3 linked regions of the Homo sapiens genome follow. The protein of the gene in region 1 interacts with the protein of each later gene in a biochemical or structural test. Each region holds a gene or a part of one and is shown in the gene's direction. Other genes may lie near its edges.

What was found.
Region 2: of the proteins of SSH1 (region 1) and AKT1, one has a biochemical effect on the other in vitro, tested with the Homo sapiens proteins (one study listed by BioGRID).
Region 3: the proteins of SSH1 (region 1) and YWHAQ form a complex in vitro, tested with the Homo sapiens proteins (one study listed by IntAct).

The regions. Positions count from the first base shown.
Region 1 is NC_000012.12:108,787,967-108,791,617, reverse strand, and holds part of SSH1 (protein phosphatase Slingshot homolog 1), read left to right. Parts: intron 1-2,373; coding exon 2,374-3,630; 3' UTR 3,631-3,651. UniProt on the Homo sapiens protein: Protein phosphatase which regulates actin filament dynamics. Dephosphorylates and activates the actin binding/depolymerizing factor cofilin, which subsequently binds to actin filaments and stimulates their disassembly.
Region 2 is NC_000014.9:104,789,098-104,792,748, reverse strand, and holds part of AKT1 (RAC-alpha serine/threonine-protein kinase), read left to right. Parts: intron 1-26; 5' UTR 27-105; coding exon 106-151; intron 152-3,651. UniProt on the Homo sapiens protein: AKT1 is one of 3 closely related serine/threonine-protein kinases (AKT1, AKT2 and AKT3) called the AKT kinase, and which regulate many processes including metabolism, proliferation, cell survival, growth and angiogenesis.
Region 3 is NC_000002.12:9,583,382-9,586,063, reverse strand, and holds the end of YWHAQ (14-3-3 protein theta), read left to right. Parts: intron 1-718; coding exon 719-778; 3' UTR 779-2,097; downstream 2,098-2,682. UniProt on the Homo sapiens protein: Adapter protein implicated in the regulation of a large spectrum of both general and specialized signaling pathways. Binds to a large number of partners, usually by recognition of a phosphoserine or phosphothreonine motif.

The DNA.
Region 1 (3,651 bases):
CCGGTTAATCTTTTCTATTTTTTTGTAGAGATGAGGTCTTACTGTTGCCCAGCCTGGTCTCAAGCCATCTGCCCACCTTGGCTTCCCAAAGTGCTGGAATTACAGGTTTGAGTCACCACGCTTGGCCTCAGATATATCATTTTATTCATAAATGCTCCAGTATGTTAACATAGCCACAATACCATTGTCACCTTTTAAAAAAACTGATAGGGCCAGACGCGGTAGCTCACATCTGTAATCCCAGCATTTTGGGAAGCCGAGGCAGGCAGATCAGGAGGTCAGGAGATGGAAACTATCCTGACCAACATGGTGAAACCCTGTCTCTACTAAAAATATAAAAATTAGCTGGGTGTGATGGTGCATGCCTGTAATCCCAGCTACTCAGGAGGCTGAGGCACGAGAATTGCTTGAACCCAGGAGGCAGAGGTTGCAGTGAGTCAAGTTCGTGCCACTGCACTCCAGCCTGGGTGACAGAGCGAGACTCCGTCTAAAAACAAAAACAAAACTGATAGTAATTTCCCAACGTTGTCAAGTATCCAGCCTTCCAACTTAGACTCTAATACTTAACTCCATTAGTCTCTTGGAGTTGCCATTTTTAGTGGATTATCTGCCACAAGGTTTGAGCTTCAACCTGGTGCTTACTGAGAAATTGGTTAATTCCAGCCAACCTTTTCCCTCCTCCATGGGGGAAGTGATGCAGGAGCAGAGGCTGGTTCAGTGGAAGGGTGGCCGTGCAGCCTGGTCTCCACTTCCACCCTTGCCCTGCTGCTGACTTTGTTGCCTCTGGCTTCACCTGCCCATCTCACAGGACAGCCGTGGTTCTCAAGTGGGGGCACTTGGGGTCCTGACAGATGCATTCAAGTATACAGCCAGTTTATTATTATTAACAGCATGTTATAATGCAAACAAAACTGGGCAGTTGCATCTGTCGACCTCCATAAAGCATTCCAAATCAAATACTAATTATGGATTTCCCCCACTTCCCTGCCTACCACAAAGCAAATACCCATAAAGACAGATGAGATAAAACCCTGGGCCAGGTGCAGTGGCTCACGCTTATAATCCCAGCACTTTTGGAGGCCAAGGCAGGCAGATCATCTGAGGTCAGGAGTTTGAGACCAGCATGACCAACATGGTGAAACCCTGTCTCTACTAAAAATACAAAATTAGCTGGGCATGGTGCCGCACGCCTGTAATCCCAGCACTTTGAGAGGCTGAGGCGGGCAGATCATCTGAGGTCAGGAGTTTGAGACCAGTCTGACCAACATGGTGAAACCACATCTCTACTAAAAATATTAAATTAGCTGGCTGTGGTGGTGCATGCCTGTAATCCCAGCTACTCAGGAGGCTGAGGCAGGAGAATTGCTTGAACCTGGGAGGCAGAGGTTGCAGTGAGACAAGATCACGCAATTGCACTCCACCCTGGGCAACAAGAGCGAAACTTCATTTAAAAAAAAAAAAAAACTGGAAGCCATGGCGGGGCCTTTAAGCAGGTGGGTGATGAGCCCCCTCTGGCTGTGGTCTACAGGCAGGCTGCTGGGGTAAGAGGGGAAGTTGGGATGCTGGGATCACAGTGGCTCAGAGGATGGGGCAAGGACATAAGGAGGTGTTGAGAGACAGAGCTGGCGGGGTGTAGTCGCTCACACCTGTAATCCTAGCACTTTGGGAGGCCGAGGCAGGAGGAACACTTGAGCCCAGGAGTTCGAGACCAGCCTGGGCAACATAGTAGGACCTTGTCTCTTATCTGTTTGAAAGAGAGAGAGACAGAGCCCTGTTGCCCTCCTGCCTTGTCCTGCCCTCCAGCCTACAGTCCTGTGCAGGCGGGGTGGGGTAGGGGGGTGCCCTCCTCCTTCCTGCTTTGCTTCTGGACCTGCATGCTGCTCTCTCTGGCTGGTCAACACCTGCTTGTCCCAGAAGCCTCAGCTGAAGTGTCAGTTCCTCTGGGAAGCCTTCCCTCCGCGGAGACTTAGAACTTGTCCCTCTCTCCCCTGGGACTCTTCACACAGCTTTCTAGTCCATTCCCAGGACCACTGGGTACCTGTCAGTTGGCCTGTAAGGAAGTGAAGGGTGGGGACACAGAGGCATGTGTCACGTTCACTTAGATCCTCACTGACCAAAAGGCAGGAGGGTTTCCTTAGGAAACAATGTAAACTTGTTTTCTATTGGGGTATAAAATCCACCTCAGGCCAGTGGTTATTCTCGATCAAGTGGGCTCCAGGAGGTCTGTCTGTCAGTATTAAGTGAAATGAGAGCCTCCCCTCCAGGCCTGGCCCCCAGTCCGGCCTCGCACCCCTTTCCCTGCCCACCCTCATGTTTTTGGTCTTTGGCTCATGACTGCACCGTCTCACCATGCTCTTGTCCCCTTCCTTGCAGGATGATGCTATATTTGGGATCCTTAACAAAGTGAAGCCTTCCTATAAATCCTGTGCCGACTGCATGTACCCTACAGCCAGCGGGGCTCCTGAGGCCTCCAGGGAGCGATGTGAGGACCCCAATGCTCCCGCCATCTGCACCCAGCCAGCCTTCCTACCCCACATCACGTCCTCCCCTGTGGCCCACTTGGCCAGCAGGTCCCGTGTTCCGGAGAAGCCAGCCTCTGGCCCAACCGAACCTCCCCCGTTCCTACCACCAGCAGGCTCCAGGAGGGCAGACACCAGTGGCCCTGGGGCTGGAGCTGCCCTAGAGCCACCAGCCAGCCTTTTGGAACCTTCCAGAGAGACCCCAAAAGTCCTGCCAAAGTCCCTCCTTTTGAAGAATTCTCACTGTGATAAGAACCCTCCCAGCACAGAAGTGGTAATAAAGGAAGAATCGTCACCCAAGAAAGATATGAAGCCAGCCAAGGACCTGAGGCTTCTGTTCAGTAATGAATCTGAGAAGCCGACAACCAACAGCTACCTGATGCAGCACCAGGAGTCCATCATTCAGCTGCAGAAGGCAGGCTTGGTCCGCAAGCACACCAAAGAGCTAGAGCGGCTGAAGAGCGTGCCTGCAGACCCAGCACCTCCCTCCAGGGATGGCCCTGCCAGCAGGCTGGAGGCCAGCATCCCCGAGGAGAGCCAGGATCCAGCCGCGCTCCACGAGCTGGGCCCCCTGGTTATGCCCAGCCAGGCCGGGAGTGATGAGAAGTCAGAGGCCGCCCCCGCTTCATTGGAAGGAGGCTCACTGAAGAGCCCCCCTCCTTTCTTCTACCGCCTGGACCACACCAGTAGTTTCTCAAAAGACTTTCTGAAGACCATCTGCTACACCCCCACCTCCTCTTCCATGAGCTCCAACCTGACCCGGAGCTCCAGCAGCGATAGCATCCACAGTGTCCGTGGGAAGCCCGGGCTGGTGAAGCAGCGGACACAGGAGATTGAGACCCGGCTCCGGCTGGCGGGCCTCACCGTCTCTTCCCCACTGAAGCGCTCACACTCTCTTGCCAAGCTGGGGAGTCTCACCTTCTCAACGGAAGACCTGTCCAGTGAGGCTGACCCGTCCACCGTCGCTGACTCCCAGGACACCACTTTGAGTGAATCTTCCTTCTTGCATGAGCCCCAGGGAACCCCGAGGGACCCAGCTGCAACCTCCAAACCATCAGGGAAACCCGCCCCAGAAAACTTAAAGAGCCCTTCGTGGATGAGCAAAAGCTGACCCGCCTTTTGCTGCGTCAGG
Region 2 (3,651 bases), on another chromosome or scaffold:
CATTCAGCTTCCTTTGCTTCTCCCAGAGGCTGTGGCCAGGCCAGCTGGGCTCGGGGAGCGCCAGCCTGAGAGGAGCGCGTGAGCGTCGCGGGAGCCTCGGGCACCATGAGCGACGTGGCTATTGTGAAGGAGGGTTGGCTGCACAAACGAGGTTAGTACCCGCTGCCAGGGCTGGGCCTGGGGAGGGAGAGATGGGGGTAGTAGCCCCAGGGTCTGTGAGTGCCTGTGCCCTGCTGGGTGGGAGGGGCTGCCTCCCCTGGGGCTCCTGGGCTGGCCTAGGGTGAGTGTCCTGGGCCCCATGTCTTCCCATGGCATGGAGGGCACGGCCTCGGGGAGGCCAGGAGGATGAGGCCCTGTGCAGGGCCGGCCATCTGAGTGGCTTCCTGGTGTGGGCCCTGGCAGGCGGGGGAGCTGCTGCCAGCCTCTCTCCTGGCTTTCCTGGAAGGCAGCGAGGACACTGGGCTGTTCCAGGGTCTGGCACGCTGGCGGCCCAGGGCACTGCCCAAGGGCTCCTGAGGGCAGGGCAGGGCTGCTTGGCTTGGCCTGGTGCCTGCTTCAGGCCTGAGCTTTGGGGGTGGGGGGAATCCGTACCGCCTGGGCACAGGGCATGTTTGCCTTGGAGCTGCAGAGCTGGCTGAGCCAAGTCCCCCAGCCCCTGTGTCCCCCTCCTCACTCATTTGGCCTTGCAGCCTATGGAGGAGGTGCTGCCCGAGGGGCCTGGCCAGCAGCTGGGTGGGATGGGAGCTGGGGACATAGCCCCACCCCTTCCAACCCTGTGCAGGCCCTTCTGCCTCACCCACCCTCCGTTGCTCAGCGGGGTGCGGTGGAGTCTGGGTGGCTGTTTTGCTCCTCTGTCCTGCTAGGGTGGGCTTCCTGTTCAGGTCCAGGTCCTCTGGCCAAGTCACTCTCTTCTGCCCCAGGCGGAATCGGTCCGCCCTCTCCTGACTTCTTTTTCCAGACTTGTTCCCTCCTAAGTTCTAGTGATCTCATGCCAGCAGCCCCCCGGCTTTACGTACACCCTCTAGCAGATGGGTTTCACATCTGGTAGTGGGGAGACCCCAAACACAGCTGGAGCAGACAGGGAGGTGTGGCAAAAGTAGGTGTCACAAGATGGGGCATTGTGGGATGTATAGGAGCTCACAGAAGAGCAGGCCTAAGGAGCCACAGGAGCCTGGGGGTGGGGTGAAGGAGTGACCGAGATGAGATGCTGGGGGAATCAGGGGTGTGGCTGGCTGTGTGTTTGGAGTGTTTGAGTGGGCAGCTACCAGTGATGGCACGCGGGGCCTCGAGATGAAGACAAGGAGGCTGCAGACGCCTGTGGTCCTTGGGGAGCTTCTGGCTCTGCTTCCCCCCAAGGCCTCCTGCCGCATCCTGCCTTCTCCATCCCCTCCCCGTGTGCTGTCCCCTGCTTGTTCCCCAGGAGTCCTGCCACCTGTGCCTGGAGGTCCTCTCCTCACCTCACAGCCCTCTTTGGTGTCAGGGACCCCCTGCCCCGACCCTGGCCCTGTTCCTCTCTGTGTCACATAGTCTGCTGCCTGGGGCCGCTGCTTCTTTATCCTTGGCAAATGTGTGTTTGTTGATAGACTGTTGGATCTCGGGCTGACCCAGGAGATGCCAGGGCCTTGACTGCCCAGGGGCCCAGGCCCCAGTTACTGGGGCACCCATCAGCCAGCTGGGCCTAGGCAGGAGTGCTCCCCCGAGGCCAGGTGATTTTCAGGCTGCTGCTGATGTCGTGCCTTCAGGAGGGGCCTGGCAGGGACAGGACATCAGGCCCAGTGGGGCGTCCAGAGAGCTGAGTTTGAACCCTGGTTAGCCACTCTATCGCCATGACCCTTTCCAAGAGCAAGGTCATTGAGCTCCTTGGGCCTCAGTTTCCCCATCTACACCAGGGAGCGGTGGTGGGAGAGAGACCTGGTGGAGTGGAGAATGGCTTGTGGGCGGCCCTGAGTTGGGGTCCGGCCAGCCTCAGCAGCCTCTGGGCTCTGTCATCTGGCCCCTAGCCTCAGGCCAGGAGAGAGGGTCCTGTACCTCTACCCCCGGCTCTTCCTCCTCCATCCCCAGTGTAGTGGGCGCTGAGGATGGGAGGTGGCGTGGATATGACATATGCCCTTGGCAGGCATAGCCCCTCTTGTTGCCGAGAGCAGGTGGCGTCCACCCGCATGGCCGGCCGCTCCTTGCGGAGGAAAGCCTGTCCTCCGGGGCCTGCCGCATTTCGCCACTCCCGTCCCTGGGGTCCCCTGTGTGTCTTGCAGATGTGCTGTGCCACCCTCCTGGCAGGGCCAGCCCCACCCGCAACACTGGTTAGAGGTACTAGCTGCCTTCCTGTCCCTAGCAGGGCTGTGCTGGGCTGACCCCACCCGTGCTTCACAGTGCTCAGGCCTGGCTGGGGGTGGGGAGGGAGGGAGGGACGCAGTGACTGTCCTCCAGGCCCGGCCGCAGCCCCTTGCAGACGCCCTGTTCCACTCCCCCCCAGCCTTGCTCCTGCAGGTCAGGGTGCTTGTCTCAGAGGCTGGCCCGCACCTGTCCCCTTTGCCGGGACTCCCCACGACCGTGGCCTGGGGCACTTTGGTTCTCAGCTGAATCCCCAGGTGACAGTCCCACCACGGCTACTTGGGCTGGCCACACGTGGCGTGATGGTGCCTTCAGGGGTGATGTGGTCATTGAGATGAGAGGGGACGGGTATGCCCTGTGTGTGAGGGGTGGGGTGGCAGTGTCTGCAGGCTCCTTCTCCTGCTCCTTGGGAGGTGAGCGTCATCTCTGGGAAGTGGCCCAGGCTGCTTTCTGTTGTTCTGATGTGTGTGCTCTGAGTCAGAGGAGCTTCAGGGACAGAAGGGACCGGGCATGGGGACACAGGAGTTCCGGCTGCAGGCCTGTGTGGACCTGTGGCTGGACCCAGGCGAGGCCTCTGGGTCTGCACATCTAACAGGGAGATGGTTCCTGGAGGGTGAGCTTAGGCTGTTAAGGGCAGGAGCTAGTGAGGAGGCTGGTGGGGCCTATAGGGACAGGGGGCCAGATGTCCCCTCCTGTTTCGGCTGTCTCACTGGATAAGCAGCCCAGCTCAGCTCTGGCCATTGGTGGTCTGGTGGGCTCAGTGTTGCTCAGACGTTTGCATTTTCAAAGATTTGTTCTGTTGTGTGAAGTCTCCTGATTTTTGAAGGCTGACAATTTTAAAAAATCAATCCTGGGCCAGGGCGCAGGTCTGGCTGAACTCGGCCTCCAGCCTGCAGTTTTCCTTCCTTTGATAGCTCCGTGCCAGGCTTTGGCCAGAGGCTGTGTGGCTCTTTTGAGGTACTTTCCCCAAACAGCTTGCTCACCTTGCCCGCTTGCCCCAGTACTCCTGGGGCCGTGCACCAGCCTGGCTGCAGCCTAGCCCCGTGGAGAGCTGCCCTGGTGCAGCCCCGGCCTGGAGCCTGTTTTTGTCCACTCGCGGCTGTCTTCCTGAGCGTCCCCCCGTCCACATGGCTGGACCAAGTGGGTCAGGAGAGGGCCGAGGCGGGTGGCCGGGATGCTGGGACCCAGGATGAGGTGCTCTGGGCTCTCGAGAAAGGGCTGGGCCTAGGCCAGGAGTGGGTGCCGGCCGCAGGGGCACCACCTGGACTCCCTCAGGCTGGTCGCTGTCCGAGAGGGGCCGGGGAAGAGCTGCAGGCCTGG
Region 3 (2,682 bases), on another chromosome or scaffold:
GTGAAAATGTTTTGCTTTATTAGTCTGTAATAATAATGCAGTAGTGCTTTCAAGAAGAGCATTGGGCTGCTGGGAATAGAGACTATCACTTTGCTTATTCTGAAAGTAGAGTGCCTTTTTAAAAAAGTTTCTCTTTTTTTTTTTTTTTTTTGAGAAAGGATCTCACCCTGTTGCCTAGGCTGGAGTGCAGTGTCATAATCATGGATCACTCCAGCCTCAACCTCCTGGATTCAAGCAGTCCTCCTGCCTCAGCCTCCTGAGTAGTTAGGACTGTAGGCACACACCACCCCGTACCTGGCCAATTTTGTTTTTGAAATTTTTTGTAGACGTGGGATCTTGCTATGTTGTCCAGGCTGTTGAACTCCTGGCCTCATGCGATCTTCTCATCTTGGCCTCCCTACGTGCTGAGATTACAGGCGTGAGCCACTGTGCCTGGCCAAATGCTTTTTAAATAAAAAGGAAGCTATAAAACCATGCTCCAGTGGTATATGTATGTATGTATGTATGTCATTTTGTAAGTGCATAGTGAAAGGTCTGCAAGGATGTACTTTGGGAAGGTGATGGTCTTTGGGGTTTTGAGAGAGAACTTCAGTCTTAGTCAAGATCTCCATTGTTTGAGGAATTTACTACTCTTGTAGTTAATTTTGATATAACAATACTACTTAGTGTAATTGCCTAATCTAGAAATAGTAACTTAATATGATTCTTCTTTTTCTAGCTTTGGACATCAGACAGTGCAGGAGAAGAATGTGATGCGGCAGAAGGGGCTGAAAACTAAATCCATACAGGGTGTCATCCTTCTTTCCTTCAAGAAACCTTTTTACACATCTCCATTCCTTATTCCACTTGGATTTCCTATAGCAAAGAAACCCATTCATGTGTATGGAATCAACTGTTTATAGTCTTTTCACACTGCAGCTTTGGGAAAACTTCATTCCTTGATTTGTGTTTGTCTTGGCCTTCCTGGTGTGCAGTACTGCTGTAGAAAAGTATTAATAGCTTCATTTCATATAAACATAAGTAACTCCCAAACACTTATGTAGAGGACTAAAAATGTATCTGGTATTTAAGTAATCTGAACCAGTTCTGCAAGTGACTGTGTTTTGTATTACTGTGAAAATAAGAAAATGTAGTTAATTACAATTTAAAGAGTATTCCACATAACTTCTTAATTTCTACATTCCCTCCCTTACTCTTCGGGGGTTTCCTTTCAGTAAGCAACTTTTCCATGCTCTTAATGTATTCCTTTTTAGTAGGAATCCGGAAGTATTAGATTGAATGGAAAAGCACTTGCCATCTCTGTCTAGGGGTCACAAATTGAAATGGCTCCTGTATCACATACGGAGGTCTTGTGTATCTGTGGCAACAGGGAGTTTCCTTATTCACTCTTTATTTGCTGCTGTTTAAGTTGCCAACCTCCCCTCCCAATAAAAATTCACTTACACCTCCTGCCTTTGTAGTTCTGGTATTCACTTTACTATGTGATAGAAGTAGCATGTTGCTGCCAGAATACAAGCATTGCTTTTGGCAAATTAAAGTGCATGTCATTTCTTAATACACTAGAAAGGGGAAATAAATTAAAGTACACAAGTCCAAGTCTAAAACTTTAGTACTTTTCCATGCAGATTTGTGCACATGTGAGAGGGTGTCCAGTTTGTCTAGTGATTGTTATTTAGAGAGTTGGACCACTATTGTGTGTTGCTAATCATTGACTGTAGTCCCAAAAAAGCCTTGTGAAAATGTTATGCCCTATGTAACAGCAGAGTAACATAAAATAAAAGTACATTTTATAAACCATTTACTATGGCTTTGTAACAATTGCATACCCATATTTTAAGGGACAGGTGAATTTACTACTTTCTAAAGTTTATTGATACTTCCCTTTTATGTAAAATGTAGTAGTGATACCTATATTTCCACATTGTGCATTGTGACACACTTGTCTAGGGATGCCTGGAAGTGTATAAAATTGGACTGCATTTCTTAGAGTGTTTTACTATAGATCAGTCTCATGGGCCATCTCTTCCTCAGATGTAAATGATATCTGGTTAAGTGTTATATGGAATAAAGTGGACATTTTAAAACTAGCAAAGTTAATTATGTGATTGTGAGTGCCTTGGCTGTTATTAGAATTGTGCTTCAGTGGATATTCAAAAGGAATGTAAGAGTTCAGACACAGATACTCCTCAACTTAAAATGGGGCTACACCCTGATAAACCCATTGCAAGTTGAAAATACGAAGTCAAAACTGCACTGAATACACCTGACCTAATGAACATTATAGCTTAACCTATCCTACATTAAATGTGCCCAGAACACTTAGCCCTACAGTTGGGCAAAATCAAAGAACATGAAGCCTACTTTATACTAAAGCGTTGGATCTCTCAGGTAATTTGTTGAACACTGAAAGTGAAAACCATTGATTGTATAGGTACTTGAAGTATGCTTTCTACTGAATGCCTGTCATTTCCACACCATTGTAAAGTCAAAAAATTAAGTTGGGGACTCTATGCTTCTGTTTGTAAACATTCAATCTTACTATTAGTGAGTTCAAAATAATTTTGGTTTTATAGTATCACAATAGCTATTATTTTACTAACCAATCTCAGATTAGTAAAATAACTGAGACTGAATGACTTGAGAACTGATTTTTAAGTCAGAAGATAATCTGAAAAAATAGCT